3 linked regions of the Homo sapiens genome follow. The protein of the gene in region 3 interacts with the protein of the main gene of each other region in a pairwise test. Each region holds a gene or a part of one and is shown on either strand. Other genes may lie near its edges. The genes, in order: PRKAA2, TRAPPC6A and IKZF3.

Region 1 (3,655 bases), on a different chromosome or scaffold from region 3:
GGCGACAGAGCCAGACTAGTCTCAAAAAAAAAAAAAAGATTACTTTCATATCAGTAAACACACTGAAATCACTAGTATTTCTAATAAACATGGGTTAAAACTGGTAGAATTCAGCACATTTTATAATAAGAAATGAAAGATTGAGGCATCCAAGTAAATGTTGGAAAAGTAAAAATATAAATTTTAATCATCTATATATGGCATTTCAAAAAACGTTATTTATCTCTAAATATGGACTGAAAGACATTTAAATCTTATTTTCTCAATTCTGATAAATATGAGCAGACATAGAAAATTATATCCTTGTAGGTTTGAAACTCAGAACATACTAGGCATTTTGACTTTACAGTCCATAGAGCAGAGACTTTGCAGTCTGAGAACCCTGAATTTGATTGCTAGCTCTACCACTTAATAGCACTGGAACTTTGGACAAGTTACTTAAAGTATCTGATTCTCAATTTCTTCATTTGTTAAATGGAGATAATACCAAACTTAGAGGATTACTCTGGGAATAAAAAAAAATCAAGTGCATATATCATACAGTGATTAGAATATAGTAACAACTTAATCAAATTGTACCTTTTATCACTGAAGTATTGAAAATATGTTTCCTTTTCCCCTGTTCTACATTACATCTACATTTCAGACTCAGGAACTCAAATTTTCATTAACCAGGATGAATAATTAAATATACCCATTTTTTTGGAGTTAAATCTTTTAAAAATCGGTTTAATGATAGCATTGTAAAGGACCTCACAGATTCGCTACTCCAGTGTTATCCTTTAGGAGGGGAAGAAAACAAGGCCCAGGGAGTTAAATTGTTCAGGGCTTCCACACTAGCACACAAGTCAAGCAAGGGACCAAAATACCACAGACATAACTTTTAGCTCCATCAATTGATGGGACAGTTGTGTGAAATTTGATTTATCATTTAGGACTTGATATTTACATTTCAAAATAAGGTAACACTTTTTGTTTGTTTGTTTAAGTTTTGGTTTATCCTTCCTGTTATCTCAAAAACAAGTGGGGAATTAGTAAAATATTTACTTAATTTATTGAAAGCAGTCTGTAGGCCAGTCATGTAACTATTTGAAAAATGGAAAGGGTAACTTCTTCGTGAGACTTTGCCGACAAGAAAGAACCTAAGTATCCCTTGGTGTACAATTCCAATGAAGAATATTTATTTCATAAACCACATATGGGTAAACATATTTCTGGAGTAAAATGTTGAAAAAAATTTGTTTAAATCATAAACCACATATATACTACTACTCATCTTGAAAATGCAGGCTTCTTTTTAAATAAATAATTAGCACTATAATTTTGTTTCTTCAATCAGTCTTTATATAACACAAACAACAGGACCATTCTTCTAGAATTTCTATCACCTTTAGAGAAGTTAGATAAGAAATGAACAAGTCTAATTACAAGAACTCTCTAACAGTTTTACCCTACCCAGAGTGAGAGCCTAAACAGTCAATATAGAGAAAAATTTTAAATAGATAAAAAGCATTACTTTTAAACTCTGTCAGCCCATATAATCTGTTTCCAAAAACAGTCCCTCAGCAACCTGATAATACAATAGACTAATGAAGGACAAAATTTAAAACATTTTAAATAAGGCTTTATTAACAAATACAAAGATTTCCATATACTTTTAAAAAACAAATTAAAACTACTGCTGTTAAAACTATTCCATTTTCAATTTTTGCTTTTTGTCCCTAACTTTGGTCCATAAATTGATATATCAACAACTGAAGTTAAAATTTCTTTATTTCTTTTTTTTTTTAAGACGGAGTCTCGCTCTGTCACCCAGGCTGGAGTGCAGTGGCACAATCTCGGCCCACTGCAACTTCCGCCTCCCGGGTCCAAGTGATTCTCCTGCCTCAGCTTCCCAAGTAGCTGGGATTACAGGCGCGCACCATCACAGCTGGCTAATTTTTGTATTTTTAGTAGAGATGAGGTTTCACCATGTTAGCCAGGTTGTTCTCAAACTCCTGACCTCAAGTGATCCACCTACCTCGGCCTCCCAAAGTGCTGGGATTACAGGCGTGAGCCGCCGTGCCTGGCCTAAAATTTCTAAATCTATAATTAGCATAACAGTCAAAGTTGGGCATGGTGGGACACATTTGTAATCCCAACACTGTGAGGCTGAGGCAGATAGACTGCTTAAGGCCACAAGTTTGAGAACAGCCTGGTCAACATAGTCCCTAAAAAAAACTAATTAATAAACAAATAAGAAAAAGGAAAAAAGTCAAGAGAGAAAGCACATAAAATGTTCCTTACTTCTCCATTTCCATGTTTTTATAACCATTTATCTAACTATCTATCTATCTATCTATCTTTCTATCAATCAATCAATCAATCAAAGACAGGGTCTCCCTATGCTGCCCAGGCTGGTCTTGAACCCCTGGGCTCAAGGGATCCTCCTGCCTTGGTCACCCAAAGTGCTAGGATTACAGGCATGGACCACCACACCTGGCCAAGCTTTTAAAATTACATCATCTCCTATTAGCTTTTTTAGTAGAAATTCATTTTGCAATGTCTAAAATCTACAACAATTAAAAATGCACCTGCATTCAACAAAAACTGCTGAGACAATTGGTTATCCACATGGAAAAAGTTAACCTTACAACCTCATCTCACACCATACATAAGAATTAACTCAAAATAGATCACATAGTTAAACATCAGGGCTAAAATAATAAAATATTTACAAGAAAACATAAAAGAAAATCTTTGAGACTTGGGCTAGGCAAAGATTTCTTGCCTATGACATCAAGAGCATAGTCCATAAAATAATTTTAAAAACTAATAAATTGGACCTCATGAAAATTCAAAACTTTTATACTTCAAAAGACACAAGAAAATGAAAAGACACAACAGACTGGAAGAAAATATTTGCAAAATATATCCATTAAAGGATCTGTATCCACAATTTACAAAGAATCCTCACAACTCAACTTATAAGATGACAAGTAACCCAATTAGAAAATAAGCAAGAGATATAAACAGACATTCCATCAATGAAAATACATAAATGACTAGTAATTACGTGAGACAATGTTCAACATCATTAGTCCTTAGGGAAACGCAAAATTAATGCCTCAATGAGATACTATTTCGCACCCACTAGAATGGCTATAATAAATCAGGCAGACAATAACAAATGTTGGCAAAGATACTCAGAAAAGGGAACTTTCATACATCTTTGATGGGAATGTTATAAAATGGTGTGACCATTTTGGGAAAGTGTTGCAGTTTCTCAAAAAGTAAAACATAAAACTACGATATGACCCAGCAATTCTACTTCTAGTTATTTACCCAAGGTGTATGAAAACATATGTCCACACAAAGACTTACATGTGAATATTCGTAGTGCCATTATTTATAATAGCCCAAAACTTGAAACCATGACCATCAACTGGTTTTGTATAGACAAAATGTGGCATATCCACACAATGGAATATTATTCAACTATAAAAAGGAACAAATTAATGGCACATGCTATGTCATGCATGAATCTCAAAAGCATTGTTAAAGAAGCTCGACACAAAAGATGACATATTGAACGATCACGTTTATGAAGAAGAGCCTAGAAAAAGCAAATTTATACAGGCAGAAAACAGATTAGTGATTTCCTGGGACTGAGGGT
Region 2 (3,057 bases), on a different chromosome or scaffold from region 3:
GGGGAGAGATGCTCAGGGGCCCTTAGCCACCACGAACCCGGGGCCACCCAGGGGGGGACCTGCCAGGGGACCCAAAGACCAACTTGCTGGTGCTCGTCAGTTCAGGGGTGAGCAGGGAGGGGCTCTGGCACAGCCCGGCCAGGGCAGGGGCAGGCCTCTAGGGTGCTGGGGCTCCCTCACCCACCTCTGCAGACCTTGCAGGCTCTCTGGATCCCCAGATCATCAGCCCCCAAGAACCAGCTCCCCCTTCCCTCAGGAACAATGGGGGTCTTCCCCAGGCTCCCTTCCTCCTCCATGACTTTTCCTGATAACCCCCATGACAGGCTGCACGTGCTTTCAGCGCGAACCCTCACAATGCCCTGGGAAGTGGGCGCTGCGACTCCACCAAGATGCTCCAGGTGACCTGCCCAAGGGCTGGAGGCTGGGCCACAGGAAAGGGGGCTGTGGAAGTCAACCATGATCATCATGCCTTATAATATTGGCCAAGATCCCTGGGGAACACGTGGAAGCTCGGGACAGGCAGATCTTCGTTTGGGTGCTCGAAAAGGACAGTGGCTGCCATGTAGTGTCTGGAGGGTAGGCCAGGGTCCATACAGGAGGGGACTGTGCTGGCAGAGGCAGGCCCCAGGTAGGAGGGCTGCACTCGGTGTCTGTCCACGTGCCTGTGTGTGTGGAGGGCATGGCTGGAGGAGAGGAGATGCTCATGGATTTTTTTTTTTTTAAGAGATGGAGTCTAGCTTCATTGCCCAGGCTGGAATGCAGTGGCCCAATCTCTGACTCACTGCAACCTCCGCCTCCCGGGTTCTAGCAATTCTCCTGCCTCAGCCTCCAGAGTAGCTGGGACTACAGGGATACGCCACCACACCCTACTAATTTTTTGTATTTCATTAGAGACAGGGTTTCACTGTGTTGCCCAGGCTGGTCTCGAACTCCTCAGCTCAGGCAATCTGCCCGCCTCGGCCTTCCAAAGTGCTGGGATTACAGGCGTGAGCCACCGCGCCTGGCGAGTTTTCTTTTTTGGAGACAGAGTCTCACTCTGTTGCCTAGGTAGAGTGCAGTGGTGCAATGCTGGCTCACTGCAACCTCCGCCTCCCGGGTTCAAACAATTCTCCTGCCTCAGCCTCCCGAGTAGCTGGGATTACAGGCCTGTGTGCCACCACACCCGGCTAATTTTTGTATTTTTGGTAGAGATGGGGTTTCACCATGTTGGCCAGGCTGGTCTCAAACTCCTAGCCTCAAGTGATCCGCCCGCCTTGGCCTCCCAAAGTGCTGGGATTACAGGCAAAAGCCACTGCACCTGGCCATGGATCTTTTTTTTTTTTTTTTTCATTCGGGTGTTTTGCTGCAAGCAGAGGAAGGGAGGAGGCCCAGACTGGGGGGCACCAGAAATCCCAGGACGGCTGGGGCGTGAGGCGCCAGGTTTTTCAGAGAAAGCCTGGCAGAGCAGAAGTGGGGGAACAGAGGCGGCAGGTGTGCAGCCCTGAGCTGAAGGAAGCTCACCCTCCCGCTGGCTGCTCTCAGGAGCCTGCAGTCACCAGGCCTGAGCCCTGCAGCCCTCCCTCTCCTGCCCTTGACCCCCACCTTCCCTTGGGAATGGCAGCTACCGCCTCCTCCCTCCAGGGCTGCACCATCAGCGCAGCCATCCGAATGGGGATGCGAATTCTCTGCTTGGCTCCAGCCCTGGAGCGGGTCTCCCAGCCTGGAGAGCGTGTCCGAGGAAGGCTTCTTGCAGCCTGCGGGCCCAGCTGCCTCCATCCCTCCCTCACCCTCTCCTCTGCCCCCTGAGGACATTCGCTCAGACTTCTGAGCCTTTGTACCGACTTCCTTCCCTTCCTCCCTCCCAGCTTGCGTCCCCAGCCCTGCCCACTGCACACTGTCCCTGGATGAGGACACAGCTCTGTGAAGGTGGGGACCCAGGCTGACCAATTCACATCCGGCCTTCAGCAGCCAACACAGAGCTTGGCATGTGGGTGGTGCTTAACAGACTGGCTGATGAGACAACGTGCATCAACAAAGGACACCGTAAGTCCTTACCTAATGCTGTCAACAGGCTCTTGGAAACTATGGCTTTAAGCAAAATGACATATGATGAAACCAATTTCACGCAGGTTAATTAACATAAACAAGAGTGAAGTTCCAATGCCATATTTCTGGTACAAACACATCACCAAACTTCTAAATAAGGATGAAAACACTTGAAATATTAAACACTGAAATAAATGTGAGCTATACATACGTTTAAGAAAGATTAGGCCGGGCGCAGTGGCTCACTCCTGTAATTCCAGCACTTTGGGAGGTCGGAGTTTCGCTCTTGTTGCCCAGGCTGGAGTGCAACGGCGCGATCTCAGCTCACCACAACCTCTGCCTCCCGGGTTCAAGTGAATCTCCTGCCTCAGCCTCCCCAGTAGCTGGGATTACAGGCATGAGCCACCACGCCCGGTTAATTTTGTATTTTTAGTAGAGACAGGGTTTCTTCTCTTTTGGCCAGGCGGGTCTCGAACTCCCAACCTCAGGTGATCTGCCCACCTCGGCCTCCCAAAGTGCTGGGATTACAGGCGTGGGCCATCGCGCCCAGCTGAGTCCAGGAGTTCGAGTCCAGCCTGGTCGACATGGCGAAACCCCTTCTCTACAAAAAATACAAAAGTTAGCCAGGTGTGGTGGCATGCACCCGTGTCCCAGCTACTTGGGAAGCTGAGGCAGGAGGATCATCTGAGCCCAGGAGGTCGCTACTGCAGTGAGCCATGATCATGCCACTGTACTGCAGCCCAGGCAACAGCAAGACCCTGTCTTTTTTTTTTTTTTTTTTTTTTTTTTTGAGACAGAGTCTCGCCCTGTCGCCCAGGCTGGAGTGCAGTGGCGCAATCTCGGCTCACTGCAAGCTCCGCCTCCCGGGTTCACGCCATTCTCCTGCCTCAGCCTCCTGAGTAGCTGGCACTATAGGCACCCGCCACCACGCCCAGCTAATTTTTTTGTATTTTTAGCAGGGACGGGGTTTCACCATGTTAGCCAGGATGGTCTTGATCTCCTGACCTCGTGATTCACCCACCTCGGCCTCCC
Region 3 (3,655 bases):
CATCTCCACTGAGGCAGACGGAGAGCAATTAGTGCCTTAATGGTCGTGTAATTAGCCCTAGAGGTCTCTGCTGTTGTAACCCTTCAGAACAAGAATGACAGATTGAAACCTTCCTACTTAACTCTTTCTAGTTTCCACACTGGGCTCTGAGGAATGCACTTCCTAGACAAGGAATGCTCATTTCTCTCACTTACCAGAATGTGTCCTAAGATGCCCCGTGAGCGCATCTCTTCTTTGGCATGCATAGTTGCAGAGGTGACACTTAAAAGGTTTTTCCCCTGTGTGCAGTTTAATGTGGCGGAGGAGGTTACCTTTCTGAGTAAAAGATGCCCCACACTGATTACACTGGAATGGGCGTTCACCTTTAAAAAGGACAAAAAAGGAGATTTCTGGTCACAGGCAAGTGGAGAAACATATGCACAGATTAGATGCCTAGGGGAAAAGCTCATCTTTTAGACAATTACTGTTCACATTGGGATCAGTTGGGAGCTGCATTTCAAGGCAAGCCTAAGACTTACTTATGAAATCTCCTCTGTAGAAGAGAAAAAGCACCCACTAGCAAGGCTATTTTAGGTATCATATTGAATCAGAGCAAAGAAACAAGAGCAGCTCTAGAAGTGCTTTCTAGATCTAAGTTTTTATATTACTATATTACTTGGTACTCCCTTTTTTTTTTTTTTTTTTTTTTAGACAGGGTCTTCTTGCTCTGTTGCTCAGGCTGGAGTGCAATGGTCCCATCATGGCTCACTGAAACCTTGACCTCCTGGGTTCAAGTGAGCCTGTCACCTCAGCCTTCAGAATAGCTGGGACTACCAGTGTTTGCCATTATGCCTGGCTAATTTTTTAGTATTCCTTTTGAATATAATCTCCTTTGAAAAAAGAGCCAGAAACTAAAGTCCTTACAAGGTGTTGAGGGCTAGAAATTCTCCTTTTTAAAGTCTTCATATGAGATATGGGATGGAATCGACTGGCTCAAGTGCGATGGTTGTGTTTGTATGCATTTCTATAGACTACCTGTTTATTGTCTGAAGATACATTATTTTAAGCTGGAAATAAAAACTATGTCCTTTCATTTACCAAATTTGAACCCAATACAATAAGAAGATCTGCTCTTATTAAAAATGTTATGCAAAAATATACAAAAGATGGCTAAGAAGCAAATCACACAATTCAACTCCTACTTAGAAACTGAAGAAAAAGTATTTGGCTGACCTAGAACACTGTGCTCTCTACAGTCTTTTTTTATTCATAGCATTTGCAATATGTTTGCCAAATGCATGGTGAGGCAGGAATAAAAAGCACTGAGTGAACAGCAATGCAGAGAGAGAGATACATCAGCATTATAGCAAAAATCAATGAAAGTAACCAAAAGTTCCAAATTCCACCACTTCATTTCTCACGTGGCTGCATTAGGAGAGTTTTCAGAAGAATGAAAAAAGCAGACTATTTACCAGTATGGCTTCGCTTATGAACCATTAAGACATTGAAGCTGATGCAGGATAATCCACACACATCGCAGTTCATCTTTCCACTGGTTGGCCTGCTACTATCGAATGAGACAACATGTCTCTCCAACTTAATGTTTTCATATTCATTATATTCTCTTGAATAGCTGTAAGGGATTTCAGGCTCTTCTGCATTTCCCATGGGTTCTGACTTTAAAACATTCTCATCTCTTTCACTGTATTCATCTTTCACTTTCATTGAATCATCTGCAGGGAAGAAAATGCAAGAAATGAACAACGACTATACTTGAAGCTATCAAAGCAGCTCAAACAGCAGAGACCCACAACTGACAATTAAATACCAATCGAAGCTAACAAAACACTGTACATCTACAAAACAAGAAAGCACCATTAGCGTGACCGCACGTTATTTAAATTCAGAACCACAGTCAGAGGAAAACACACATACTTACACACATAAAAATAGACGATAGTGTTTTAGGCTATCCAGAAAATTACAGATAATAGATTTTAGCTAAGTTTGCTCAAAGTGGCCATGAAACAAACATTGAGCAACTCTTCTCCAGTACTAGGGGAGAGGAAGGGTTCTCAGATCTAGTACTGTTTTTGGTGGCTGCAGTTAAAAAGGCAAGGTGATGTACTCTTAGGTTTCAAGGAGAAAATATTGTTTGAATCCTTCAGATGCATCCAGTGTAAGCCATTAAGATTAAGAGTTGACTAGTTAACATAGTTTTTCTAATTTTAAGCCATGCATTGCCTCTTCCCCTTCCACGTATATGAATTGCTAAAACACATCTTATCTCTGTCTCTCTTGGAGCTGATAAAGGCACAACATTGACTGTAGAGGAAGTTGTCAGTACTAATGAAAAAGTGTTGAGAAAGACAAAAGGAAAAGTAATTCTTTCATATAACCTAAGGAGTCACTTTCATCGACACAGGTAAGTGGGGCTCAATCTAAATAAGGGGAAGGACCATTAGGTCCCAAGTTAGGGAGAACTAAACTCAAGGACTCAAGGATTGTGTAATAGGACTGGATAGGAGAGGAGGGACTGGCTCAAGTGAGTTGGCTGACCAAGTACTATCTTAAGAACTGCAATGTAAATGAATGAAATTTAAAAGAAGAGCTGTAATACTCTTCATGAAGAGCATAAGAACATATGAAGAACGTGGGAAAAATATGAAGAACATAAGAAACAAAGAAGGCAAATTTATGTACTTGCACTGACACTAGTAAAACCTAAAAATTTGCCTGATGTAAGAATAATAAACATTTGTAAGGGATTTTGCATATATAAAATATGCTATATAAATGCTTACTTTTTCAACCATTGGTCCTTAGAAATCAAAAGTTGTACCTCCCCATGAGGAATCACAAATCAATGGAGTGTAGGGCTGGAAGGGAATTTAAAGGTCATCTAATCCAACCCTCTTGTTTCTCAGATGAGGAAATCTGGGAGCAGAGATGTTTTTGGTCATTTGTCGAAGGTTACACATCCAGTTACTGGCAGAGGTGTGATTAGAATGCAAAACTTAAGCTTGAACTATCAATTACTTGGATTTGACCTCATGCACTAGACATATAAGGCCTAAGTGGGTTCTTACCAACTGTATTACACACCCTCCCATCAATGGTGTAAATGTTAAAACCCAAAACAGTCTGAAAAAAGATATTTTAAAAAACTACATCCCTTCCAAAAAACATCAGTAAGTGTTGCTCCTCTTGCTGCATAGGAGGAAGTACAACTGCAGCTGTGCCTGGCTTGCTACCTTCAACCCAAGTTTCAATTTTCACTTCTATCAAGGTTACCTTTCATCTATATTAACTGTGTTTGCTTAATAGAGCAAGACAGGGCCTAACCACCATCAGAGGAGCCAGGGCTGCCACACAGTTCCACTGCTTCCTACCACAGTTCATGGTTCACAACTTTTCACTCTTTGACTAGCAAAGATGTAGGGCTGTAGGATAAGTCCAACATGTTTCAAATTTGCCCACCCTATGGATCTGGATTATATAAGAAATGATATCTGTTTCCTACTTGGAAAGAGGTTTACTTCTTTCTCTGGATAGGTCTTCCCTGCTTTCAAGTGGAATTTGTTTGCTTAAGTGTTTATTTTTTATTTTTTTAAGAGAAGGATGCACCTGAGGCTTGTACTTGCCTCCCTTCCTCCATCACTCCAGCTGTGGGTAA

What was found.
Region 1: the proteins of IKZF3 (region 3) and PRKAA2 interact in binary tests that used the Homo sapiens proteins (3 or more experiments, as listed by UniProt).
Region 2: the proteins of IKZF3 (region 3) and TRAPPC6A interact in binary tests that used the Homo sapiens proteins (3 or more experiments, as listed by UniProt).

What each region holds. Positions count from the first base shown.
Region 1 is NC_000001.11:56,648,229-56,651,883, reverse strand, and holds part of PRKAA2 (5'-AMP-activated protein kinase catalytic subunit alpha-2), read right to left. Parts: intron 1-3,655. UniProt on the Homo sapiens protein: Catalytic subunit of AMP-activated protein kinase (AMPK), an energy sensor protein kinase that plays a key role in regulating cellular energy metabolism.
Region 2 is NC_000019.10:45,165,206-45,168,262, forward strand, and holds part of TRAPPC6A (trafficking protein particle complex subunit 6A), read right to left. Parts: intron 1-3,057. UniProt on the Homo sapiens protein: May play a role in vesicular transport during the biogenesis of melanosomes.
Region 3 is NC_000017.11:39,791,222-39,794,876, forward strand, and holds part of IKZF3 (zinc finger protein Aiolos), read right to left. Parts: intron 1,713-3,655; coding exon 1,452-1,712; intron 363-1,451; coding exon 195-362; intron 1-194. UniProt on the Homo sapiens protein: Transcription factor that plays an important role in the regulation of lymphocyte differentiation. Plays an essential role in regulation of B-cell differentiation, proliferation and maturation to an effector state.